Linked DNA regions of Homo sapiens. The protein of the gene in region 1 interacts with the protein of each later gene in a biochemical or structural test. Each region holds a gene or a part of one and is shown in the gene's direction. Other genes may lie near its edges.

Region 1 (3,500 bases):
GTCCAATTTTGTACAGCCGCTACTTTATCATATTTAATACATTTTGTGACTTGGGCATGTGGAACATAATTTTGTTATTTTCACTGCTTTTACTCCCCTAAAAGATTTGGAATATGTGTGGGAAAAGACATGCATAACAGAACAAATGAAATTAGAATGAAGAAAAACAAAAAAAAAAAAACAAAAAACCCTCAGAGCTAAATGAAGAAAGAAATATGTAGGTGCTTTGGAAAAACAACAACAAGACAAAACTCAGAAAAAGTCCTGGCCTTTGAGTGCAAGATTTAGCTCTGGGCCTCTTGGAAGTGAAGGCGATGGAAAAGTTATGACAATTACCAAAGTTCACCATCTTATAATAGTATACTGATTTCTACTGTTAAATGTAAGAGAAATTTAGTGCACAGGTCTTTATATAAGGGAAGATCCATTTGCTGTGGCTCTTAGAACTGCTGTAGGAAGTGCTATAGTTGTCAATCACATGCCGTTTCTAATAACTGTCAACATTTGCAAACATTTCGCCAAAATATATAGGAATACCAAAATGGCCAGGTAAGTTACATTCCTAGGAGAGGATGAAGTATTCACGTTATGATTAATTGGGTATATTGCTTTAAAAGGTGTAGCCAAAGTTGTTATTCTAAAAAATTCTTTGAGTCAGTTGCCTTGATTTTGCTAAAGCTTTCTAAAGAAAAGGATGTTTTGCATGTATCTTAGTTTGAATTTAATATTCAGTGTTTCAGAAATACACCAAGTACAGTAAGCATGACATGAACAAAGTTCTGGACCTGGAGTTGAAAGGTGACATTGAGAAATGCCTCACAGCTATCGGTATGTAGTCCAGCAGTTGAAAGAGTTTTCTAACTAGAAATTGTATTTTCAAAGCTATCCTATACTTAACAAGAACAACAGCAACAAAACCAATAAAAGAAAACAAAAAACAATCAGAAGTAGTGCATCTGTTTCAATTGAAGCAACGTAAAAGATTGGCAAAGTACTATAACCTTAATAACAATAGATATTATTCCCCTTTTCAAAAATAGAGAGAGATAGACTATACTTATTGAGCACCTACTTATATCAAACAATGTACCAGGCTGGGCACACCACAGAGGCAATTCAGAATGGTCACTGAGAGCATGGGATCTGGAATAAATGTAACATCTGGATAAATGTAACTTCAAGTCCTGGTCTACTGCTTGTTAATTGTACAATCTTGGGCAGGTCCAGGAGAGTCTGATTCAGTGGGTCCGAGTTGGCCTCTAAAAATCGGTACTTTTTAAAGATCTCCCAGGTTATTCAGACAACCATCAGGGTTGGGGAACCTATGTTCTCAAGCAGTGTTTCTCATTCATGACTATGCACTTGAATCCCCTGGAAAGCTTGTTAAAATGCAGATTCTGATTCCCCAGGTCTGGGGTGGAGCTTAGATTCTGCTTTTCTAACAAGCTCCCCATTGATGCCAATGCTGTTGGTCCATAGATCTCGACAAGATGAAGAACACTATGAACTGGAATGTGCTAGTATTATTTGGGTTCTGTTTTATATTTAAGCCCATCCTATCCCAGAGTTTTTTCTTCATTTATTCATTTATTTTTACTTATTTGTTTGTGCAACTCTTACTTTAGACACAGAGGTACATGTGCACGTTTGTTCCATGGGTGTTCTGCACTCAGGCAGTGAGCATAGTACCCAATAAGTAGTTTTTTGACCAATGCCCCTTCTCTCCCTGCCCTCTCTAGTAGTCTGCAGTGTCTGTTGTTCATAGGGTGTTCTTTTTAAATGTTCTTATAGTAACATAAATAAAGTATTTACATAGGCTTGAACACCTAGTGGCTTCTCCACTCCCAAGGAGAATATATGTTGGATAGCGCAAACTACTGAAGTTGCTCTTGAGATGTATTTAAGGTAATAAAAAAATTGATCGTCAGGGAAAAGAATATTCAAAACCACCATCTAGAGAGTCACAAATACCTTCTCAGAAGTTAACTGCCCTATATTGGGAGATGAGAGGTGAAGAATGATGATGAGGGATAGAACACTGTTGGCAAAATTCTATATTTCCTGTTTCTTTCATATGGATATTTCATTTTTTTCATGGTAAATACATCAACTAAAATTTTCTTCTCTAACAGTGAAGTGCGCCACAAGCAAACCAGCTTTCTTTGCAGAGAAGCTTCATCAAGCCATGAAAGTATGTACCATTCTACTTATATGTCCTGCTTAGAGGAAGAATTATTTGTAGAAAGAACAGAAAACCTCATGTTGTTTGAAAATCTCACATTTAATATCTTCCCATTAATGAGAATCATTGTTCTATTTGATGAAAGAGGTAATACACTACCTTCTCAGAATAAACTTCTGTTAGATTCGGTGCTTTTTTTTACAGATGAGATTGTAAAGTGAGCCTGTAAGTGATTTACGGCTCACTTGTGATTTGCTTAAAACATGTGTCACCACGGGAAGGGTGATGTACTTTCTTTTTTAACGTGTAATTTTAGTGGCCTACTTCCTCTAAGGTTGTGAGTTTTATAATCTCCCACTTTATGAGTCTGATTTGTTGTTTTTATTATTCTGTCTTTTATGCCACAGATTAATAGTTGAAACTTTTGAAATGTCATTCTATGATTAAGGATGTAGAATGATGTATTTGAGATCAACTATGTCACTTTAACTTTACTGTCTGACATGCATGGTATTATACAAGGTACCTCTTCTATTCTGACATTTTGAGCCCACAAATGAATAGTTATGAAGTTATCTTCCTTTTTTCTTTGCAGCTCCAAAATAAGGAGGTTTTCAGAGAGAGAGAGAAAGAAAGATCTAACTATTTGAATAATATGAAGGAATATTTTGAATATATATGAATAATTTGAATAATATGAAATGATAGACATGCTAGGTACTGCTCTGTAGTGGTTAGCATAGTTGCTGCCCCCTTTCTGCCATAGTCTAGTGTGATATTTCGTTGGGTAATGATGAATACCTGGTGCCATGGAAGAGAAAAGTGGGACATATACTCCAGACTTTGGAAATCCAGGTAGCATTGCTGTCAGCTAAATTAACACCTGAAGTTTAAATAGAAATGAGCCAGATGAGGGCAAGAGTGGAAGAGATGGGGATAAAGCAAGGGTGGTCCAAGAGGAAGAAGTAACCCACACACAGGCTTGAAGGCAAAAGGTAACATAACCTTCTCAAGACAGTAAGTATAGAGTGATGGTGCACACTGGAAGAGATGGTAGAATTAGGCAGGATATTGTAAGCCTTGAAAAAGAATTAGGCAGGATATCGGAAGCCCTGATTAGATTCTATCCTAAGAGCAACAGAAGATCACTGACAGTGTTTTAAATAGATAGACTAGTTTATTAGATTTGCAGTTTAGAAGTTCCCTTTTTTTGTAATTATTGGACAGTGTAGAGACCGGATGGTGAGAGATGAGTTAGGAAGTTGTGACAGCTCTCTATACCTACCGCTAATGTAGAGGATTATTTATTTTCATTTCA
Region 2 (3,500 bases), on another chromosome or scaffold:
TCATGAGTTTTTCATGGCCATGGATAAGATAGTTGAAACCTTTTACTCCCATATTCAGAATTTTGTTTCGTTTTGTTAACTTTTTTTAAGAAATGGAAGGTCCCAGATCTAGAAATGGATTACCTGTAAGATGATTTGCTATGAATAATAAAAATGGCACAATTCTTTCTTCTTGTAATCACTTTTATTCTGAAAGTGTAATTTGGCTTTTTTCCTTTTTCTCAACCTTCTTACGTACACTGCATGAATTATAAATACGAACTTTATATTACTTACTCAATTTTCATAGTCTTATTTCCTGCAATACCCAAACCACGTTGTTTGATGGTTGATCTCTAGTAGTCATTTTCTGGTTGATTTCTATCAATTATATTTTGGCTCTCTAAATTCTGAGTCACTTCAAATCGGAGTTATGGTTAAAGAAGTAACTGATGTAATTAGTTGAAACACTGTTCTCTCAGTAAATCTTGATTTTGTTTTACCATTCCTTTGGGAGCCTCCTCTGCACCTTAAAAGCTCAGCTTTCTATATAACCTGTTATATGCCTGTTTAGATTTTACCAGATTAGCATTGCCTTACTTATTTACCATTTGAAGTTAACTTTTCAAGTTACTGCCTTCCAATAGTTCTAAGTATTAATTTATTGAGTATTGATTAATCAAATATTACTTCTACTGCCCTTCCCTGTCTCTCTGTTCTAAATTGATGGTATGTTGGCCATTATACTTCAGTGACCATGTAGATAGTGGGCAATTTGAAGCTTTTTTTGAACCTTGTTACAACAAATCTTTAGAGCATTTTGACCTGTGATATTATATATGTATTATGTACCATTTTATTTTGGTTTGAGAAACAAATATGTAAGTGACAAAAATGATAGATCAGTATGTACTCTATGAATATGATGGGAAATTTGGGATAAATGACAACAGTGTTCCTGTAGAAAATCTGGAAATCCAGAGAGAAGAAAACAATTCCCAAACCCGGAAATTCCTAATAGTATTTCTGTCACTATCAATTTAAAGAAAACTATTTTGTGTATAGTTATTTTGTTCAGAGAGTAATGTAGTATTTTCCCATGTGTTAGTATTATTTTACCATCAGTTTTTATGGTGTTAAAATACATATAATTTCCATGTTTTAGTTATCTTGTTAAATTTTACCAGGTAAGTCTACTGTTCTTTACCCACCCTCATTATTCAAAATAAAAATGTTAGTTGCTTAGCTGTGTGTGTGTGTGTGTGTGTGTGTGTGTTTGTTTGTGTGTTTGTGTGTGTGTGTGTGTTTGTGTGTTTGTGACTACAGGTGTGCACCACCATGTCTGGCTAATTTTAGATGGGGTTTTGCCTTGTTGCCCAGGCTGGTCTTCAGCTCCTAAGCTCAAGCAGTCTGCCCACTTCGACGTCCCAAAGTGCTGGGATTACAGGCGTGAGCCACAGCCCAGTGCTTTGTTACTTTAAATGTAGCATATGTGAGTCCTTTTTGCACTAGGGTTGTTACCCTTATTGGGAGTTTTAAGTTTTCTGGAAAATCAATGACACCTGAAATGGCAGTATTTGGATCTGCTCTTTGTGAATTAACTATTTTTGAAAGCAAGTGAGGCATTATAAAAAATTTTAAACAGATTTGGGGATTTTTGTAAATCAAGTTTGAGAGTTTAAGAAGGACAGTTAGAGGAGGGATAGTTTGTTGGAAAGGAAGAAACAAGGAACCTAAAAACATAATGTAGAAGTTGAATTGTGAGTCACTAGAATTATGTAAAGCTACACTCTATCTGTAAGCTCTACTATAGTTGGTATTTGATTTTTATTAAAAACAGCATCACAATTTTAATGACCTATGCAGGGCTGTCTCTGAAATTGTTTTAGTTATTTAAAGTAAACACACATGGAAATTGACTTTTTATTTTTAATTTTTTGTATAGAGATGGGGTCTCTCTGTTGGCCAGGCTGGTCTTGAACTCCTGGCCTCAAGCTTTCCTGCCACCTCCACCTCCCAAAGTGCTGGGATTACAGGCATGATCCACTGTGCCAGCCTGCAGTGTTTTTTTGTCTGTTTGTTTTGAGACAGAGTCTTACTCAGTTGCCCAGGCTGGAGTGCAGTGGTGTGATCGCGGCTCACTGCAACCTTTGTCCCCCAGGTTAAAGTGATTTTTTGTGCCTCAGTCTCCTGAGTAGCTGAGATTACAGGTGTGTGCCATCAGCTCTGCTAATTATTTGTATTTTTAGTAGAGATGGGGTTTCACCATCTTGGTCAGGCTGGTCTCGAACTCCTGATCTCAAATGATCCTCCCAGCTCAACCTGAAGTTTAAGCAGGACTTTATTTATTTATTGAGATGGAGCCTCACTCTGTTGTTGCCCAGGCTGCAGTGCAGAGGCATGATCTTGGCCCACTACAAACTCTGCCTCCTGGGATCAAGCGATTCTCCTGCCTCAGCTTCCCAAGTAGCTGGGACTACAGGCGCCAGCCACCACGCCTGGCAAATTTTTGTATTTTACTAGAGAAGGGGTTTTACCATTTTGGCCAGGCTGGTCTCGAACTCCTGACCTCAGGCGATCTGCCCACCTTGGCCTCCTGAAGTGCTGGGATTACAGGCGTCAGCCACCGCACCTGGCTAAGCAGGAATTTCAACTGCATCCTGATTTACCCAGTAGATACATGCTTAGGAATTATGATTTTTTTTTTTTAGTACTTTTAAGTTTAATAGGTCTTTTTAAAATAAAACAGGTGGCTGGGCACGGTGGCTCACGCCTGTAATCCCAGCACTTTGGGAGGCTGAGGCAGGTGGATCACGAGGTCAGGAGTTCAAGACCAGTCTGGCTAACATGGTGAAACCCCGTCTCTACTAATAATACAAAAATTAGCCAGGTGTGGTGACACGTGCCTGTAGTCCCAGCTACTCGGGAGGCTGAGGCAAGAGAATTGCTCTGCCGGGAGGCAGAGGTTGCAGTGAGCCAAGATCGTACCACTGGACTCCAGCCTGGGCAACAGAGCAAGACTCCATCTCAAAAATAAAATAGGTTATATTTCATATTTTTATTTTTTATTTTTTTGAGACGAGTCTCGCTCTGTCGCCCAGGCTGGAGTGCACTGGCGCGATCTTGGTTCACTGCAACCTCCGCCTCCCGGGTTCAAGCAATTCTCTGCCTCAGCCTCCGGAGTGGCTGGGATTACAGGCACCCACCACCACACCTGGCTAATTTTTTTATTTTTAGTAGAGATGGGGTTTCACCATCTTGGCCAGGCTGGTCTTGAACTCCTGCCCTTGTGATCCACCCGCCTTGCCTCCCAAAGTGCTGGGATTACAGGTGTGAGCCACCGTACCTGGCCCTGGGGATTATATTCCTACAGTAAATGATAAGTTTTGTTTGTGGCTCACACCTGAAGTGAGAGGATCACTTGAGGCCAGGAGTTCGAGACCAGTCAGGGCATTGTAGCCAGACCTCGTCTCTGCTAAAAATAAAAATTAAAAAATTTAAAAAAATTAGCCAGGTGCATG
Region 3 (3,454 bases), on another chromosome or scaffold:
GGGGCCCTCACGGCTGCTTCTCGTTTCTCACACTTCCAGATCGATCCTGTCCTCGGTACCGTGGGCTTTGGGTCTGGCCTCCACGGGTGGGCCTTCACCCTGAAGCAGTTTGCCGAGATGTATGTGGCCAAGTTCGCCGCCAAGGGGGAGGGCCAGTTGGGGCCTGCCGAGCGGGCCAAGAAAGTAGAGGACATGATGAAGAAGCTGTGGGGTGACAGGTGAGCCCCGCGGGATATGGTGGGGGATTCCTGACACCTGGGGGTAGTGGCAGCGACGTAGGGGCGTGGTGTGCTATTCACAGCGTGGCTCAAGCCCACCAGGTCTTGCCCAAGCATGTCCCCTTGGCGACCACCCTCCCCAAGTCATCCCCTGGAGACCCTAACTTGATTTGGCTTGGCCTCTCCTTGCCAGGTACTTTGACCCAGCCAACGGCAAGTTCAGCAAGTCAGCCACCAGCCCCGAAGGGAAGAAGCTGCCACGCACCTTCTGCCAGCTGATCCTGGACCCCATCTTCAAGGTGAGTGAGGGCTGCGCCAGGCACCCCGCCGATGCGACTATTGGCCCTCGGCCCTGTGGGCTCCGGCCGGTAGCCTGTCGGCTGACTGGGCCCGTCTCCTTGTGGGGCAGATGCGAGATGGGAGGAGGCACAGCTCCTAACTGAGGTGGAGTCAGGGCTCCTCTCTTAAGATCTGGACTGCATAGCCAGAGCCTTGGGACCTCTCCTGCATTGAGGGGGTTGAATAACTTGTGGCTTTGGCGGTTCAGTGCTTGTAAGTCAGAACTTGGGTCCTTGTCTGAGTCAGAGTGGGCTTTTTCCTCTGCTCCACCACGAGGTTTCCTCCAGCTCCCGATCCGCTCAGCTGGCTGGGCCCGTGGTAGGCAGGCCAGGCCTGCTCCTGCTCCCGTGCTGCGTCCCCCTGCGCTGACCTGAGTCTTCCAAGCAGGAAGCAGTGCCAGGCTTCCTCCTGCTGTTCCCAAATGGGCTTTCTTGTTTCTTGGTGGGGAATGTAGGTGTTTGATGCGATCATGAATTTCAAGAAAGAGGAGACAGCAAAACTGATAGAGAAACTGGACATCAAACTGGACAGCGAGGACAAGGACAAAGAAGGCAAACCCCTGCTGAAGGTGCGGCCTGGGCCCAGCCCTCGGGGTGGAGGGAACACAGGCTGCTGTTTCCGGATGCTCTGACAGCCCAGGCCTGGGGGCTGAAGTCCTCAGCTGGGCAGGGACAGCTGCTGCCCCTTTCGCTTTAGACTCTGGGTGCTGCTGGAGACACATCCCAGCAGCCAGCCCCATCCGGGACAGGTGTGGGTGAGGGCCTTGGCAGGAGTGTGCATGGCCTTTGCCGCCTTCCAGAAGGGACTGTGCTTTGGAGAACGTTAGTCCTGACTTTGGCTTCCTTGGCTTCAAGAGAGGAAGCGTGTACGGGGTGGGGCCATCCTGGGCTCCCCAGGTGTCTCATGCACCGCTCTCTGCCCCCGCAGGCTGTGATGCGCCGCTGGCTGCCTGCCGGAGACGCCTTGTTGCAGATGATCACCATCCACCTGCCCTCCCCTGTGACGGCCCAGAAGTACCGCTGCGAGCTCCTGTACGAGGGGCCCCCGGACGACGAGGCTGCCATGGGTACGTGGTCCCGGTGGCCGGGCCCTGAGATGCAGCCGGATGACTTCCTGTTGCCCAAGGTTGTGGGTTGCAGGGTTCCAGAAGGCTGAGCTGCACTGGAATAAAGCTTGCGGGTTTTCTCTGTCCCTCAGGCATTAAAAGCTGTGACCCCAAAGGCCCTCTTATGATGTATATTTCCAAAATGGTGCCAACCTCCGACAAAGGTCGGTTCTACGCCTTTGGACGAGTCTTCTCGGGGCTGGTCTCCACTGGCCTGAAGGTCAGGATCATGGGGCCCAACTATACCCCTGGGAAGAAGGAGGACCTCTACCTGAAGCCAATCCAGAGGTGAGCAGCTGGGTGATGTGCAGGCCCCTTGGCACTGTTGCGGGCCCTGCCCTGCTCCAAGTCTTGGGCTCCTCAGTCGGGAGCTAGAAGTAAGGAGCATAGAAGGAATATAGGGTGATACTTGTGCCAGCCACAACTTTTGTTCTTAGCCCAGTGAGGGCATTTCTGGAGAAGCTCCAAGCCCCAGGGCACAGCACACCCCTGCTCATCTGTGTCCCTGGGCACAGGTGGGTGGCGGCCGTCGACCCATACCCAGGGAGGAGGGCAGTGATTCTGAAGAGGATGTTTCCTGACAGCCCCGACGCAGCAGTCAGGGCCTTGTGGAAGCCACCAGTCTGCCCTGGGACCTGGCAGGAGGGCCACCAACTCCGGGAGGGACCTGCCCTGGCCCTCCAGGGTCCAGCACAACCATCCCTGCGGCCTGCTGCCGCCTTCTGCTTCTTCCAGAACAATCTTGATGATGGGCCGCTACGTGGAGCCCATCGAGGATGTGCCTTGTGGGAACATTGTGGGCCTCGTGGGCGTGGACCAGTTCCTGGTGAAGACGGGCACCATCACCACCTTCGAGCACGCGCACAACATGCGGGTGATGAAGTTCAGCGTCAGCCCTGTTGTCAGAGTGGCCGTGGAGGCCAAGAACCCGGCTGACCTGCCCAAGCTGGTGGAGGGGCTGAAGCGGCTGGCCAAGTCCGACCCCATGGTGCAGGTGGGCACGGAGTGCACCTGCTGGGAGCAGACACCCTGAGGGGGGACGGCTTGTGTCCTGAGTTGTGGCTGTGTGGGTTGCTGTGGTTGGTGGATTGGGGTGACTGGTCATGAAAGGAGGGGTTCTTGGCTGTGGCTGTAAATGGAGACTCCTGCCCAGGCAGCCACCACCCTCTCCTAGGCTGCTCTGCGCGTGTTCACTGTAGCTTGTGGGACTTAACATTTCTTCAGGAGTTTGTGCTGGTCCCAGTTTCCCAGCACCTTCCCTGAAATCTTGTTCTGGCGGGGTCCCTAGCTAAAGGGAAGCTGGGAGCCTGGTCCCGCCTGTTCCGAGCCGCCTACCCCTTTGGTGCTGACCCGCATCCCTTTCAGTGCATCATCGAGGAGTCGGGAGAGCATATCATCGCGGGCGCCGGCGAGCTGCACCTGGAGATCTGCCTGAAGGACCTGGAGGAGGACCACGCCTGCATCCCCATCAAGGTGAGGCGCCAGTGACCAGCCTTCCCCACGCCCCACCCCGGACACCTGCCCTCTGCTTTAAAGCTGAGCTGAGCTAGGCTCTGCAGACGCCTAGACTTGATCTCGGTCTTGGTCTCAGCTTCTTAAGTTCCTCAAGTTTCTTCTTTGCAGTCTTCCACAGGCATGTGGGGCTGTTTTTGTTGTTGTTGTTGTTTTTTTTGAGATAGTCTCGCTGTGTCATCCAGGCTGGAGTGCAGTGGCGTGATCTTGGCTCGCTAGAACCTCCACCTCCCGGGTTCAAGCGATTCTCTTGCCTCACTCAGCTTCCTGAGTAACTGGG
Region 4 (3,500 bases), on another chromosome or scaffold:
TGAGGTATAGAAAGTAGCTTTCCCAAGTGACATCACAGAGTTATAAAGCTAGACATAGAGCCCTGACCGTGCGATTCCAACTGTGGAATTCACACAAGGCAGTTCCATTATATAAGTTCAGATTCACACACAATTGAACATGTTTTTTAGAGATACAGACATGGTACAGCCTTCAAGGGAACCAAGGGAATTACAAACACCAGCTTTAGGAGAGTACTTAATTCCTGGCAGGGAAGGACAAGGGGTGAGTTGGAGAGAGACATGCCAGGGGCTAGCAGTTTGCAGTGATGTCCTCTTCCTGCATCCAGGAGTTGGGTGCGAGTGTCTGTGTGTTTGTGATGCTTTAAGCCTGACACACGTTTCATAACGAGTGCTCAGTATTTTGTATAAGTAATTGACACGGAGACAGAACCCATGGCACTGAGGGCTATGTGGGCTCCCCCTGCATTGCAGAGCGCCTCCGCAGGGAGGAGAAGCAGCGACAGGAGCTGGAGAAGACCCGCCGGAAGCTGGAGGGAGACTCCACAGACCTCAGCGACCAGATCGCCGAGCTCCAGGCCCAGATCGCGGAGCTCAAGATGCAGCTGGCCAAGAAAGAGGAGGAGCTCCAGGCCGCCCTGGCCAGGTGAGGACCCCGCCTGCCCGCCTGAGGCCAGGTGGCCTGGGCCAGCCCTTCCTGCTTGCTGCTGGCCCTAGTTCTCGGCACTAGTGAGCTGTGAGCATTCTTTCCACTGTTGTCTTAAAAGAGCCATTTATTTCATAGCAAAACAGTTCTTGTGCACTCAGGGCATGGTGAGGGGCCTCATTTGTCTTTTGTTTGTTTATAATTTGAAAAAAAGTCATCCACAGCTCTATCACCCACCTACAATAGTCCTTTCCTAATTTCTTGCTATAGGCACACTTAAAAAAAAAAAAAAAAAAAAAAAAGACTTGACCAGGCACGTTGGCTCACGTCTGTGATCCCAGCACTTTGGGAGGCCAAGCCGGGTGGATCACTTGAGGTCAGGAGTTCGAGACCAGCCTGGCCAACATGGTGAAACCCCCATCCCTACCAAAAATATAAAAAATTCGCCAGTGTGGTGGCACACGACTGTAATCTCACCTACTCAGGAGGCTGAGGCAGGAGAATCACTTGAACCCAGGAGGCAGAGGTTGCAGTCAGCCAAGATCGTGCCATTGCACTCCAGCCTAGGTGACAGAGCGAGACTCTGTTTAAAAAAAAAAGAAAGAGACTTTATTTTTTAGAGTAGTTTTAGATTCACAGAAGAGTCAGCAGAAGATTCTCCATCTATCCACTGCCCCACTCACGCACCGCCTCCCCTGCAGTCAACATCCCCTACCACAGTGCTGTGTCTGTTCTAATTGGTGAACCTACGTTGACCTGTCATAACCATCTAAAGTCCGTAGCACATTCGTATTTTTACTGAGTTGCAGTTGTCCTGTGGTGTAGCGTTTTATTTCCTTTTCTTCCCATTTAACACATCATTTGACTTTTAAAAATATTTGAAGCAGTGAATCTTACTTTGGAAATTGAAACGATTCCTCTATGAGGTTTTCTGCTTCTCAGAGGGGTGTTGCCCTTCAATCTGGTTGTCTCAGATGTTGTTTCTGCTGAGAGCCATCCTAAGTGCCATGATTGTGACCACAGGAGGCAGCTTTGGCTGCTGCAGCTCTCTCAGGCCTGTCCTGCAAACTCTGCTCCTTGGAGGTGAAACTCTCCTTATACTGATGTTGCTGGTCGCTTTGGCAGAGTGGAAGAGGAAGCTGCCCAGAAGAACATGGCCCTCAAGAAGATCCGGGAGCTGGAATCTCAGATCTCTGAACTCCAGGAAGACCTGGAGTCTGAGCGTGCTTCCAGGAATAAAGCTGAGAAGCAGAAACGGGACCTTGGGGAAGAGCTAGAGGCTCTGAAAACAGAGTTGGAGGACACGCTGGATTCCACAGCTGCCCAGCAGGAGCTCAGGTGTGCCCTGGGACCAAGTCCCTCGGGATGGGGAGGGCAGCCAGGGGGGCCTTGGCTTGGAGACATGGACCCCGGGCCTCTGCACACACACACACACACACACCGTGGCCCTCTTAGGCACCAGCAGGCATGGAAGCTGCTGGTTCCTCAGCGGTTTCTCTCTACAGAGTAGAAAGTCTGTTGAAGGACCTGGCTCAAAGTTGGGGGTGAGGCAAGGCTGGGCTTTAAAGCTGAAAGGCTACAGAAGCTCTCACAGGGCGTATTTGAGCCTGGGCTATGGGATAGATGGCTAGGAGGGGCCGGTGGGTAGAAAAGCTGCCTGGAGTGCCTGTGCCCTGGCCAGGCCTCTCTTTGGTCAGGGAAGAGCCCCAGGGACAGCCTCGCTCCAGCATCCCCGGCCTCCACTCTGAGGGGATTTCTCTGTCCAGGTCAAAACGTGAGCAGGAGGTGAACATCCTGAAGAAGACCCTGGAGGAGGAGGCCAAGACCCACGAGGCCCAGATCCAGGAGATGAGGCAGAAGCACTCACAGGCCGTGGAGGAGCTGGCGGAGCAGCTGGAGCAGACGAAGCGGGTGCGGAGCCTCCCTGAGACCGCAGGGGGAGGGCAGGGTTCCCCGTGCTGGGCCCACAGAATCCAAACCAGTCCTGCAGAGCAGTTGCAGGGTTCTACCCAACTGCCTGGTTCTGAGGCCAGGCTCCCCTTCTAAGGGGCTTTGTGACTCGTGCCTCAGTTTCCCTGTTCATAAGGGAGGATTATGGTATGTCTGTCTCGTGATTATTTGAGGGTGAAAACATTACATCGTTACTTTGAACATCAGACTTCAGACAGGCTTTATTGGAAGTCTAACTGCAAACAATTATAGTTCCCCTTATTGCGTTACAAATATTGCTAACATCTGCAACACCAATGCCATGCCCTAGAACCTGGCCTCTACCCAGGGCAGAAGGCTGGGCAGGTATTATTTTAGAGATGGGGAAGCTGTGAGATGTCCTAAGCAGTGAAGACAGGAACCAAGTGTCACCCACCAGCTAAGAGAGAAGAGGACAGGACAGATGAGGCCCGAGCCGTCTGAGTCCAGGACGCAGGCACACCGTCGTCAGGGCTGCAGAAGCAGCGATGTCTGGATCTAGGGTCCAGTGATGATAGACCAGCCAGCCTTGTGTCAGGAGGCCCCCACTCACGTCTTTGCTTTCTTCCCTGCTAGGTGAAAGCAAACCTCGAGAAGGCAAAGCAGACTCTGGAGAACGAGCGGGGGGAGCTGGCCAACGAGGTGAAGGTGCTGCTGCAGGGCAAAGGGGACTCGGAGCACAAGCGCAAGAAAGTGGAGGCGCAGCTGCAGGAGCTGCAGGTCAAGTTCAACGAGGGAGAGCGCGTGCGCACAGAGCTGGCCGACAAGGTCACCAAGCTGCAGGTGAGGCCTCCGCCAGGACCCTGGCGCGGGCAGTGGGCCCTAGCAGCAGTTGTGGCCCAGGTCCCCAGGTGCATGTGTGCTCTCTGTCTCTCTCTCTTCTCAAACTGGCTCCTCAGACCCTCAT
Region 5 (3,500 bases), on another chromosome or scaffold:
AACTGAACACTAAATTTTAAACTCTGCTTAAACTTCAGTATAAAAATTAAACATAAAGTTATACTGATTTTCGTGCAGACGAGTGAAGATCAGCATCAGAATTGGTCAGTCTGCTTTTGCATTTCTTAAATAACCTTCACAGTTAAAAGCTCATTTTGTCCTTTTGACTGTACATTCCTAAAAAGTGCTGACTCTTAGAAAAGAATGCTCTCCTTGCATGTCTTCTTTTGCATGCTTCTGCATAATGTGTGTTCCTTAGAAACCAGTTTAGGAAATGTGTCATGGTGGCTATGGAGAGAAGGAAGGAAGTCCTTGCTCGGGTTGAATTTTTCTTGCCAAGGTTGGTGGTCACTGCTTCTGGGACACCCTGGTTCTCTTCACAGTGTTTTCCGTCTGGCTCCTCTGAAGGTCAGGATCACTTTCTTTTATGACAAGTTGAAGTGTCCTGGTGGTGAACATATTTTGTGCCAGATACTTACTATTACTTCTCTTTCCTCTTAAAATGAACTGTTACTTTTGGTAACAATCTGTGTCAAGATTTTGTAGTAGAAGAGTTCCTGGAAAGGCTGTCAGTGAAGGATTAAATGGCATTTCCTTGGCTCTTAAAAAAATCAAATACGCCGGGCGCTGCGGTTCACGCCTGTAATCCCAGCACTTCGGGAGTCCGAGCCAGGTGGATCACCTGAGGTCGGGAGTTCGAGACCAGCCTGACCAACATGGAAAAACATGTCTCTACTAAAAATACAAAATTAGCCAGGTGTGGTGGCACGTGTCTGTAATCCCAGGTACTTGGGAGGCTGAGGCAGGAGAATCACTTGAATTTGGGAGGCGGAGGTTGCAGTAAGCCAAGATTGCGCCACTGCACTATAGCCAGGGCGACAAAGTAAGACTCCGTCTCAAAAACAAACAAACAAAAAACCCCAGAAATGAACAGTTTTTACCAGGCCACATGATGTCCCAGACTTAGATTATAAAACCACATTTGCTGATTCTGGCAGCATGTTCCTTCTTCAGAACCTTCCTGACTTTAGCTTGAAAGCTGAGCTGGTTGAAACGTCTTGAAAAGCAGTATGTGCAGTTTTGTCACGAGAGAATTTCCGGGTGGGTGGGATAGGTTGAGGTGGGTGTTCCCGTGTAGAAGTGGGGGCTGAAGCTGTGTGGTAAGATGAGCTCTGTGCTTGGGACAGGGTTGTAAGGGTCTGGCCAAGACGCATAGAAGAAATAGCATGTGAGTAGGAAGCAGCCCTATTTTAAATAGCGCCCTGGAGACTTGAATTGGGAAGAGGACCAAGAAGAGTGTGAGGCAGTGAGATGCCCAGCACCAGGGTGGGAGAGGCGAGTTCCAGTGACTCGTGGGCACTCAGGAGCGGGGATGACCCCAGAGACACAGGGAGCTTGGAACCATGCTTCTGTATTCAGACATGACTTTCTGCCAGCTTTGCACGCTTTTTCCTGAAACATTGTTGGCAGAGGGGAACTTGTATCTTCTGTTCAGTTGATTCTCGATTTTAAACGTTTGTTGCCTTTTGGAGCCTGCACTTCCCCTTACCTGGTGATTGGAGTGTGGGAATGGTTGGGGGTATCAAGGCTTCAGCAGGCTGGGAAGGTGGCAGGAGCACAGGGTGCCAGGGGTGGGCTGAGGGGCTGGTGGGTGCTCCGGGATTTTAGGAGGAGTGCTGTGCCCACAGCTGCTGTGTGTCCCTGAGGCCAGGGAAGTCCTGACTCCCATGCTAGGTTCTTTCTGCCCCATGTAGCTCCCTCAGCGCCCCCACCCCGATACCTCAGGAAACTCCAGGTCGAAACTCCAGGTCGAGTGGCAGACCTCCTGCTGGGTGCGTTCTTAGGAATAACACTTCTAGCCGGGGGTTTGGGTCAGATCCTGATTCTACTCTCCTTTGTTTCCCACTTTTAAATTTTTTATATTTATATTTAAAATTTAGAGACAGGGTCTCACTATGTTGCCCAGGATGGTCTTGAACTCCTTGGCTCAAGTGATCCTCCCCCATCAGCCTCCCAGAGTGCTGGGATTTATAGGTGTGAGCCACTGCGCCCAGCCCTTTCCCACCTTTTCAAATTGTAGCCCTGTCGAGAGCCTGGAGTCTTCATCTTTGCCTGAAATTCAGACTCCGAGTTGTGATGGTTTTGTGTTCATCTCTGTGCTTGGCTTCAGGATACTCCCCATTTACCTTTCTTCTCACCCACCCTAAGCTTTGGTGTCTGTCTACGGGTTTGCTTAGAAGTGTAGAGACCAACAGCCAACATGGGGTGCCTGGCTTTTGTTTTTGCGTTGTGGGGTGTTTTTCTTACCTTTAAAATCCCTCTGATGGCAGCACAAGGGTGTAATGAGGATTAGTTATTTAGCATATCTAAAGAACTTTGAGCTCCTTAGGGCAGGCGGCACTGTATTAGGATTTATGTTTTGCTTTTTCTGTGGACCGCCTTTGTGTTTCATGTAATGTAGCTGAAATAGCAAGTACGTGTTTCTTTTCTTTTCTTTTTTTTTTTTGGAGATGGAGTCTCATTCTCTCACCCAGGCTGGAGTGCAGTGGCGCAATCTTGGTTAACCGCAGCCTCTGTCTCCTGGGTTCAAGCGATTCTCCTGCCTCAGCCTCCGGAGTAGCTGGGATTACAGGAGCGCACCACCATGCCCGGCTAATTTTTGTATTTTTGGTAGAGATGGGGTTTCACCATTTTTTTTTTTTTGAGACTGAGTCTTCCTCTGTTGCCAGGCTAGAGTGCAGTGGTGCGATCTCTGCTCACTGCAACCTCTGCCTCCCAGGTTCAAGTGATTCTCCTGCCTCAGCCTCCCGAGCAGCTTGGACTACAGATGCGCGCACCACCATGCCCGGCTAATTTTTGTATTTTTTTTAGTAGAGACGGACTTTCACCATGTTGACCAGAATGGTCTTGATCTCTTGACCTTGTGATCCGCTAGCCTCGGCCTCCCAAAATGCTGGGATTACAGGTGTGAGCCACCGCGCCCAGCTGGGGTTTCACCATTTTGGCCAGGCTATTCTCAAACTCCTGACCTCAAGCAATCCACCCACCTCGGCCTCTCAAAGTGCTGGGATTACAGGCATGAGCCACTGTGCCTGGGCGGTTTTGAATTTTTAGTAGAGACAGAGTTTCGCCGTGTTGGCCAGGCTGGTCTTGAACTCCTGACCTCAAGTGATGCGCCTGCCTTGGGCCCCCAAAGTGTTGAGATTACAAGTGTGAGCCACTGTGCCCGGCCAGTTTTTTTTTTTTTTTTTTTTTTGAGATAGAGTCTCGCTGTGTTGCCCAGGCTAGAGTGCAGTGGTGTGATCTCGGCTTACTGCAACCTTCGCCTCCCGGGTTCAAACAATTCTCTGTCTCAGCGTCCTGAGTAGCTGGGATTGCAGGCACCTGGCTAATTTTTTGTATTTTTAGTAGAGACGGAGTTTCACCATCTTGGCCAGGCTGGTCTTGAACTCCCGACCTCGTGATCCACCCGCCTTGGCCTCCCAAAGTGCTGGGAATTA
Region 6 (4,066 bases), on another chromosome or scaffold:
GTCCCCAAGGACTCTACTCCCACTATTCTGTCTGATCTTTCTTTATCCCCATGACAGGACCAGCTAACAACACCCCTACCCCACCCCCTATACACATACTTCAGGATCGGGCCATGATAATCCCACCCCTCTGCCCCATCTCCAAGGCAACCTGTCAGTGAGACGAGGACAAAGGGCACAGGAAGGGGCCCCAATAGGAAACATAAGTGGAAGCACAAAGCTGACCAAGCTACAGGAACAGACCCCTCCCTGCAACAAAGCCCCTTGCCTCGGCTTTATGTTTCCTTCGCAAAAGACTTCGTCATCTCCCTTCCCATCCCTAACTCTACTTTCTTTTTCTTTTCTTCTTCTTCTTTTTTTTTTTTTTTTTTTGAGATGGAGTTTCGCTCTTATTGCCCAGGCTGGAGTGCAATGGCACCATCTCAGCTCACTGCAACCTTCACCTCCCGGGTTCAATTGATTCTCCTGCCTCAGCCTCCCAAGTAGCTGGGATTACAGGTGCCCACCACCCCGCCTGGCAAATTTTTGTATTTTTAGTAGAGACAGGGTTTCACCATGTTGGCCAGTCTGGTCTTGACTCCCTGACCTCAGGTGATCCACCCCCCTTGGCCTCCTAAAGTGTTGGGATTACAGGCGTGAGCCACCTCACCCGGCCCCTAACTCTATTTCCTATGCCCAATCCCAAGTGTAGGCCACAAGGACTGCAAGTCCTAGTGCTGAGCTGGGCCCGGAGACAGTAGACTGCGGGGGGCACAGGACCTACTGAGACACCAGTCTGGGCAGCTCAGGGAGTGCTGGCGTCACCCCTTCCCTAATCCCAGGCTGCATGGCTAACGGTTCCTATCTGCAGTCCCAGCCTTCCACTTCCGAGTTCTTCTCTCAGACCACAGTCCCAGCAACCCAGAATTTGGATTGGAGTCTGGAAGAAATGCAGAATGATTAAACGACCACCTTTCCATTTGAAGTCCCCATCCCTGAATCTTCACGGGTGTGCCCAAGCTGTTAGTGTCAAGTTTTTTATATGAGGGTCAGTCGGGTTGTACTCAGATTAATGAAGCAGGGAAACTGAGGCAGAAAAGAGTCCTGTGTTCAGGAGAGGTCGGAGAAACAAGGAGGTTTTCAGGACTCCTCCTTAACACCCCCATCCCCATCCTGTGGGAGATCCGAGGATTCCCCTTCCGGACTCACTCCCTACATCGTCGAGTCCCGCCCCCCTCCAGTCCCCTCCCCAGGTTCAGGGCGGGGCCGGTCGGTGAGTCAGCGGCTCTCTGATCCAGCCCGGGAGAGGACCGAGCTGGAGGAGCTGGGTGTGGGGTGCGTTGGGCTGGTGGGGAGGCCTAGTTTGGGTGCAAGTAGGTCTGATTGAGCTTGTGTTGTGCTGAAGGGACAGCCCTGGGTCTAGGGGAGAGAGTCCCTGAGTGTGAGACCCGCCTTCCCCGGTCCCAGCCCCTCCCAGTTCCCCCAGGGACGGCCACTTCCTGGTCCCCGACGCAACCATGGCTGAAGAACAACCGCAGGTCGAATTGTTCGTGAAGGTAAGAACACTTCTCTCCTCAGCCACCCAAATTCCTGGAAGCCAACTCTCACCTTTCCCCCGGTCCAGCCTTAACTCCCCAATCCCTTCCCTCCTTGACTCCCACCCCCAATCCCACGTGCACTCTTTGGTTGAGGGGTGGTTTTGAGAGGGGAAGACATTAACTTGTTAGCAAGTAATGAGAATTCTAGGATCAACCCTGAAAAGTTTGTAAAAGTGCAAGTTTCTAGCAGACTAAAGGAAGGGAAGTGGAGAAAAAGGAGAATTCCCAAAAGTGAGACTGGGGTGGGGTTAGAGGGCGAGCTGGTGAAGGGACAGTGGGGGCCCAGCAGGGTTTAGAAGGGACAGAGGGGAACCTCAGTTAGGACATGTGTCCCTACAAGATCTGAGGGTGAGTAGTGCAGTAGGAGAGGTGTGTGTGTGTGTGTGTGTGTGTGTGTGTGTGTGTGTGTGTGGATGGAGACGCTTCAGGGAAGACGGTGTGTTGAGGGAGGCCTGAGAGTGAGAGCAAGTAAATTGGGAAGCTTTGGAGGGGCGGAACAAAACAGGAGACTGGGATCGGAGTTTGAAAAGCAGAGCTGGAGAGGTGATCGGGTGGCATTGAATATCCCCAGGACTGGGGAAAGGGACAGAAGGGGAGGTGGCAAGAAGACGTGAGTTTAACGTAGCTACCACAAGGATGGGTGGGAGAGAGATCAGACGGAGGAGAAGAGCTCGGTTAGGGCATTTTGGGATTTGGGGGTTGGAGAAGTAGAAGACTTGCCCCAACTCTCTCCTCTCTCTGCGGGTGTGGGTAAGGAGAGATGGTCCTATGGCATTTGGGTAGCAAAACTGCAGGCAGCAGGCTTCTCGGTGTCACCCAGCCCCCCTCTGATTGCAGCGGCCGCTCCCCTCCCTACCGCTGCTGCATTCATTTCCCAGTCTTGGGACCTCCTGGCTGTGCCCCTCCCTCCCTTCCTTAACAGTGTCCTCTTCTCCCCGCTCCGTTTGTGTCTCTCCGTTGGCACGCACGTCTCCCCACTCTCCACTTTCCTGCCGCCTTTCTTTCCCCTTCCCCCCTTTTGTTTCTCTCATCTTTGTGTGTCTCTGCCTGTGTCTCCCTCTCCCTTCTGCTTGGGTTTCTCGGGCAGCCATTCCCTCTCCCTGGGCCCAGGGAAGTCGGAGCCTGCTTGGGTCCGCCCCCTTAGGTGTGGTCCCCACCTCACTCTCACATTCGCCTCCGGGGCTATTTTTACTCGTGGGTGAGGCTGTGCCGCAGAGATTCCGGCCCTGTGTCCTGTGAGAGGATGGTTATTGCAGTCAGAGGACTTGTGCTGGGAGACCCTGGCAGCAGGTTAGGGGTAGCCTTAGCTGCCCAGGCCTCATCCTCACTGTCCCTTCCCCCACATCCTTGACAGGAAGGAAGCCGGAGACAGAGAGATGAATCACCCTCAGCTTAGGGGGAGGTGTCCCTTGGGCCAATGAGGTCACCACTTGCTAATTAGAGGGCAGCCCCTCTCTGTAGGGCCCTCCACATCTCTAGCGCGAGGCCCAGGGCCCCTTGACTAGACTCCCCACCCAAAGACACCTTGGATTGGAGGTGTAGAGAACCAAAACTCTGGCTCCCAAACCCCACCCACCTCTCCTGTCTTCAGACTCTACTCCCTTCAGGAACCCAGAAATCCAGGCTTCTAGCCTACAACTCTGGCCTCACTGAAGTTCCACACCCTTCCCTCTCTAGGATTCAGATCCTCCCAAGTTCTCCAGGACCTCCTCCCTCTACCTACCTCCCACCTGTCCTCAGTGTCTGGGGAACCAGAAGCCTGCCTTTGCAAAACAGTTTCCCATTGATCTGCCTTAGGTTTGACCCAGGCCCAAGGGCAAAGAGCCCATAGTGAGGGGACAGTGTATGTGTCATGACTAGGCAGAAAACAGCTGGTCTGGGAGTGGGAATGCAGGGACTGGCCTAGGGATGGGTGGGGTGCATCAGGCATAACCTTGGGTTGGGGTTACTTTTCAGGCTGGCAGTGATGGGGCCAAGATTGGGAACTGCCCATTCTCCCAGAGACTGTTCATGGTACTGTGGCTCAAGGGAGTCACCTTCAATGTTACCACCGTTGACACCAAAAGGTAGGCCTGCTTATGTTCCTTGAAACACCCCTGGTGTACACATGTGTGCAAACACACACCCACCCGAGTCCTTCTGTCATGAACATTTTTGCCCTCCCCCTGGAGTCCCTTTCTTATCCCACGTCCTCCATTCCCCCTTTCTGGTTCTTCCTGACCCCCATTTCCAGTCCTGATTCCTGATCCTTTCTCCAGGCGGACCGAGACAGTGCAGAAGCTGTGCCCAGGGGGGCAGCTCCCATTCCTGCTGTATGGCACTGAAGTGCACACAGACACCAACAAGATTGAGGAATTTCTGGAGGCAGTGCTGTGCCCTCCCAGGTATAGGGGCACTCAGAAAGTGGAGAGGTGGAGCAGGGAGATTCTGGGAAACAGACAGTTTGCAGAAATGGAAAACAGAGATGGTGGTGGGGCTGGGGCAGGAGA
Region 7 (4,242 bases), on another chromosome or scaffold:
ATCGCACCATTGCACTCCAGCCTAGGCAACAAGAGCGAAACTCTGTCTCAAAAAAAAGAAAAGAAAAGAAAAGATTAGCGATCAGATGAAACCTGAGGAATTGACATTTATTCATTCAGGTATAGTTTATTGGGCTAACGCCTTTTTCAGACAGGGTCTTGCTCTGTCTCCCAGCTGGAGTGCAGTGACACAATCACAGCTCACTGCAGCCTTGACCTCCTAGGCTCAAGTGATCCTCCCACCTCAGCCTCCCTAATAATTGGGACAACAGGCATGCACCACCACACCTGGCTACTTTTTTTATTTTTTGTAGATACAGGGTTTTGCCACATTGCCCATGTTGGTCTCAAACTCCTGGACTCAAATGATCCTCCCACCTCAGCCTCCCAAAGTGTTGGGATTACAGGCATGAGCCACTGCGTCCAGCCCACAAACACCTTTCAGGTGCCAAACACTTTTCTTGTCAATGGGATACAGAAGTGACATAGATGACGTCCCTGTCCTCTCAGAGCTTACAGTCTGGTGGACAGAGACAGTTGGCAAGAAAACAAACAATTTTTAGAGAGACATGTGCTCTAAGGAAAATAAAAACATAGACAGTGTAGCCCTAGAGAAATTTTGCACACTGAAGCATAACTCAGAATGGAGAAGTCAGACAAGGCTTCCTGGAAGATGGGCAGAAATTGGGAAGGGGGTGACGGCTGACAGTGACAGAGAAAGGAGGGAACTTAGATGCAGAGTGTAGAAAGCCTCTCTTAAAGGGTGGGAAACCAAGAGGCAGCCAAGGGAAGCCCTGGGTGGGCCTTCCAGGCATACGGAGGCAGCAAGAGTCACTCCACTGGAGAATCCAAGGGACAGCATGGAACCTGTGTGCTTCAAGAGACAGAGAAGAGGAAAGGGCTTTCAGGAACAGTGTAAAAGGTGGGATTCCAGGCTGGGTGTGGTGGCTCGCTCCTGTAATCCCAGCATTTTGGAAGGCCGAGGTGGGAGGATCGCTTGAGCCCAAGGGTTCTAGACCAGCCTGAGCAAAAGAGTGAGACCCTCTCTCTACAAAAAAATAAAAAGTAAAAATAGCCTGCAGTGGTGGCTGCACATGTAGTCCCAGCTACTCAGGAGGCCGAGGCGGGAGGATCGCTTGAGCCCAGGAGTTCAAGGCTGCAGTGAGCCATGATTGCACCACTGCACTCCAGCCTAGGAGAAAGAGTGACACCCCGTCTCAAAATAAATAAACAAATGATAATTTTAAAAAGTGGGATTCCATTCCAGACGGCAGTGCGTGGCCGTGGAACGGTGATGCATAGCGTGCTGACGTCCCATGCCTCTACGGGGATGGGATGCGATGGTGTCAGGCCTCTGGCTTGGGCGCCGCCCCTCGGCGACGTCACTGGGTACTGTGACGTCACTGGGTGCTGTGACATCAGGGCAATTAGCCCAGGACCCACAGCCCTGGCGCTCCGCACGCACCTCGGTAACATCACAGCAGGTCCAGGCCAATGATAACCTTATAAGAGGCCATGTCGAAGCGCGACATCGTCCTCACCAATGTCACCGTTGTCCAGTTGCTGCGACAGCCGTGCCCGGGTGAGGGAGGCAGCGGAGGGCGCGGGGGAGGGGTGGAAAGGGTAGTGGGGAGCGTCTGCACCCTCACACCTGTGCCGTATCCCTACCGCCCTTCCTGGCGTGTGCACCATCTAGGGACCAGGGGATCAGCCGCTCTCCCTCCCTCCACACCCGCCAGTGTGCTGGCAGAGTGGGGTTTACTGCCATGGCGGGGAGACCGGGCCTCCGCCCCCAGGGCTGGGTGGGCTTCGCGCCGCTATCACGCGGTAGAAAGAGCAGAAACGAGGGCCATCGGAGGCTGCAGCCTGAAAGTGGCGGGAAGTGGGCGGGCTTAGGAGGGGCTTAGGGAGAACCCAGGGGTGCTGGGCTTCCATGTAAAAGTGATGTTCATGGCGCTTCGCGTGAGGTGAGCTTTGCCCTCCCTGTGATGCACAAAACAAGGACACTTGGAACCTTGCCGGGGACGTGCTGACCACTTCGCAGGCGAGAGCTCAGGGAAGCCTCACCACCACCTGAGAAGGCCAGAGTGTGCCCGCAGTTTACAGAGCGGCCAACAGAGGTTAAGAGAGGGCAAACTACTTCCTTAGTCTCTCAACAAGGGCGGCGCGCCCGCGCGCGCGCACACACACACACACACACTCACTCACTCACTCTAGCCGGAGGAACCAGGTCTTCCGGTGGGCTGCCTCCATTCCCACACTGTTCCCTCACTTCCCAAGGGCGGGGGCCGCAGGGGTAGGTGGGGCTGGGGCTTTGGTCCAGGAGACCCTGGAAGACACAGGAGCAGACAGGCTTACCAGCCTCATGAGACTTGAACCCCTGCCCTGCGCATCACTGCTCCGTGGCCTCAGGCTTCATTTTCCCCTCTGTAAAGTGGGTTTATAGCGCATGCCTCTCGGGATTCAGTGGGAGGACGCAGTGAGGAGCTGGGGGCAGCACCCAGCTAGCCCCCAGGCTTTTCTCCAACCGGGGGACCCCACCCCTACAGTGGAGGGGAAGAGAGTGCAAGGCTGGGAGTGCTGGGAGAGGAGGACCATCTGAGTTTTCTTCGGAAGGGTCACCCATTGGGCTCAGATTCCCACCTGAACCAGGTGGACAAATCCCCTTTCTCCCATAGCAGAAACAACCCCCAAGGATGCAAACATCCTCAAGTTCACCAATAAACACTAACACCTTCATGAACTTGGACAGCCACTGGAAACACCTATAGTCCAGCCTCAGGCCACAAGGTCTGTGGCAACAGGGAGAGGTCAGGGAGACAGACAGGCCAGCTGGCCCCCGGCTCCCAGCCCCACCACCCCCCAGGTGCCTTTGATTTGGTGCCAAAAACTTGGACTCCCACTACCCCCTTCCAGCCCTTCTCCACCCCCTGCTGTCTCCCTTTCCTCAGGAATCTGTGTAGGATCAGACTTCCCTCCTCTATTAAAATCAGCTCCTATGTGTGGGCCTCGAGATCTCACTGCGCCCTCACAGCAGCCCCTAGGTGGGGGATCAGCCCCAAGAGGTTCATTAACTTGCTCAAATCCACAGAGCAGCAGGTCTGTGTGGACTGAGCCAGGCTTGACTTTCCAGCTTGAAACTCTCTGCCACCAGGTCCCCTGAGTCTCCACTTCTCCCCTCTTCTCAAGCCCTCCTCTGTAGCTCAGGCGGCTGCTACCTCCAGGCGCAGGTGTTTTTAAGTGCAGTCTGGGAGCAGGAGTGTGTGTGGAGAGGTGGGAGCCAATGTGAGCTTCCATGGGTTTCACAGAGTATGATACACGGTACTCTCTAAGCTTCCCTGAGGATAAGAAATGCCTGGAGTGCTTATTTTATTTTTTATTTTTTTTTGGGAGATGGAGTTTCGCTCTTGTTGCCCAGGCTGGAGTGCAGTGGCACGATCTCGCCCACCACAACCTCCGCCTCCTGGGTTCAAGCGATTCTCCTGCTTCAGCCTCCTGAGTAGCTGGGATTACAAGCATGTGCCACCACGCCTGGCTAATTTTTTTGTATTTTTAGTAGAGACGGGGTTTCTGCATGTTGGTCAGACTGGTCTCAAACTCCCAACCTCAGGTGATCTGCCTGCCTCGGCCTCCCAAAGTGCTGGGATTACAGGCGTGAGCCACCGCTCCCGGCCTGGAGTGCTGATTAAAAACAGGATTTCTGGGCCTCCATACAGACCCACTGAGTCCGATTTTTCTAGGAAGAGCCCTCCTCAGGTGATTTTTTTTTTTTTTTGAGACAGAGTCTCACTCTGTCGCCCAGGCTGGAGTGCAGTGGCGCAATCTCGGCTCACTGCACCCTCCGCCTCCCAGGTTCAAGAGATTCTCTTGCCTCAGCCCCCCGAGGAGCTGGGATTACAGTATTTTTAGTAGAGAACAGGTTTCTCCATGTTGGCCAAGCTGGTCTTGAACTCCTGACCTCAAGTGATCCACCCACCTTGGCCTCCCAAAGTGCCAGGATTACAGGTGTGAGCCACCACGCCTGGCCACTCCGACGACTCCTATCATGGAACAGTTTGGGGACCACTGGGCTAAATCAATTATTGGACAAATTCGGGGAACAATCTACAAAATACTAATGCATGTCAAACATTTCCTCGGCTTGGTCATAAGCAATCCATGTATTACCTCATTTAATCCTCACAACAACCCTCTAAGAAAAGTACTATTATCTCCCCTTACAGAGGAGGAAACTGAGGCACAG

Evidence for each region.
Region 2: the proteins of ANXA1 (region 1) and G3BP2 interact in a test that uses a peptide from one of them, tested with the Homo sapiens proteins (one large-scale study listed by BioGRID).
Region 3: the proteins of ANXA1 (region 1) and EEF2 interact in a test that uses a peptide from one of them, tested with the Homo sapiens proteins (one large-scale study listed by BioGRID).
Region 4: the proteins of ANXA1 (region 1) and MYH9 interact in a test that uses a peptide from one of them, tested with the Homo sapiens proteins (one large-scale study listed by BioGRID).
Region 5: the proteins of ANXA1 (region 1) and AP2A2 interact in a test that uses a peptide from one of them, tested with the Homo sapiens proteins (one large-scale study listed by BioGRID).
Region 6: the proteins of ANXA1 (region 1) and CLIC1 interact in a test that uses a peptide from one of them, tested with the Homo sapiens proteins (one large-scale study listed by BioGRID).
Region 7: the proteins of ANXA1 (region 1) and GAPDHS interact in a test that uses a peptide from one of them, tested with the Homo sapiens proteins (one large-scale study listed by BioGRID).

The regions. Positions count from the first base shown.
Region 1 is NC_000009.12:73,165,365-73,168,864, forward strand, and holds part of ANXA1 (annexin A1), read left to right. Parts: intron 1-732; coding exon 733-828; intron 829-2,132; coding exon 2,133-2,191; intron 2,192-3,500. UniProt on the Homo sapiens protein: Plays important roles in the innate immune response as effector of glucocorticoid-mediated responses and regulator of the inflammatory process. Has anti-inflammatory activity.
Region 2 is NC_000004.12:75,663,412-75,666,911, reverse strand, and holds part of G3BP2 (ras GTPase-activating protein-binding protein 2), read left to right. Parts: intron 1-3,500.
Region 3 is NC_000019.10:3,979,010-3,982,463, reverse strand, and holds part of EEF2 (elongation factor 2), read left to right. Parts: intron 1-39; coding exon 40-218; intron 219-411; coding exon 412-517; intron 518-1,011; coding exon 1,012-1,125; intron 1,126-1,484; coding exon 1,485-1,623; intron 1,624-1,754; coding exon 1,755-1,950; intron 1,951-2,397; coding exon 2,398-2,656; intron 2,657-3,027; coding exon 3,028-3,135; intron 3,136-3,454. UniProt on the Homo sapiens protein: Catalyzes the GTP-dependent ribosomal translocation step during translation elongation.
Region 4 is NC_000022.11:36,293,968-36,297,467, reverse strand, and holds part of MYH9 (myosin-9), read left to right. Parts: intron 1-453; coding exon 454-625; intron 626-1,750; coding exon 1,751-1,963; intron 1,964-2,391; coding exon 2,392-2,536; intron 2,537-3,169; coding exon 3,170-3,376; intron 3,377-3,500. UniProt on the Homo sapiens protein: Cellular myosin that appears to play a role in cytokinesis, cell shape, and specialized functions such as secretion and capping. Required for cortical actin clearance prior to oocyte exocytosis. Promotes cell motility in conjunction with S100A4.
Region 5 is NC_000011.10:932,370-935,869, forward strand, and holds part of AP2A2 (AP-2 complex subunit alpha-2), read left to right. Parts: intron 1-1,155; exon of another isoform or gene 1,156-1,228; intron 1,229-3,500. UniProt on the Homo sapiens protein: Component of the adaptor protein complex 2 (AP-2). Adaptor protein complexes function in protein transport via transport vesicles in different membrane traffic pathways.
Region 6 is NC_000006.12:31,733,731-31,737,796, reverse strand, and holds the start of CLIC1 (chloride intracellular channel protein 1), read left to right. Parts: upstream 1-1,266; 5' UTR 1,267-1,496; coding exon 1,497-1,535; intron 1,536-3,533; coding exon 3,534-3,643; intron 3,644-3,835; coding exon 3,836-3,961; intron 3,962-4,066. UniProt on the Homo sapiens protein: In the soluble state, catalyzes glutaredoxin-like thiol disulfide exchange reactions with reduced glutathione as electron donor. Reduces selenite and dehydroascorbate and may act as an antioxidant during oxidative stress response.
Region 7 is NC_000019.10:35,532,014-35,536,255, forward strand, and holds the start of GAPDHS (glyceraldehyde-3-phosphate dehydrogenase, testis-specific), read left to right. Parts: upstream 1-1,442; 5' UTR 1,443-1,514; coding exon 1,515-1,581; intron 1,582-4,242. UniProt on the Homo sapiens protein: May play an important role in regulating the switch between different pathways for energy production during spermiogenesis and in the spermatozoon. Required for sperm motility and male fertility.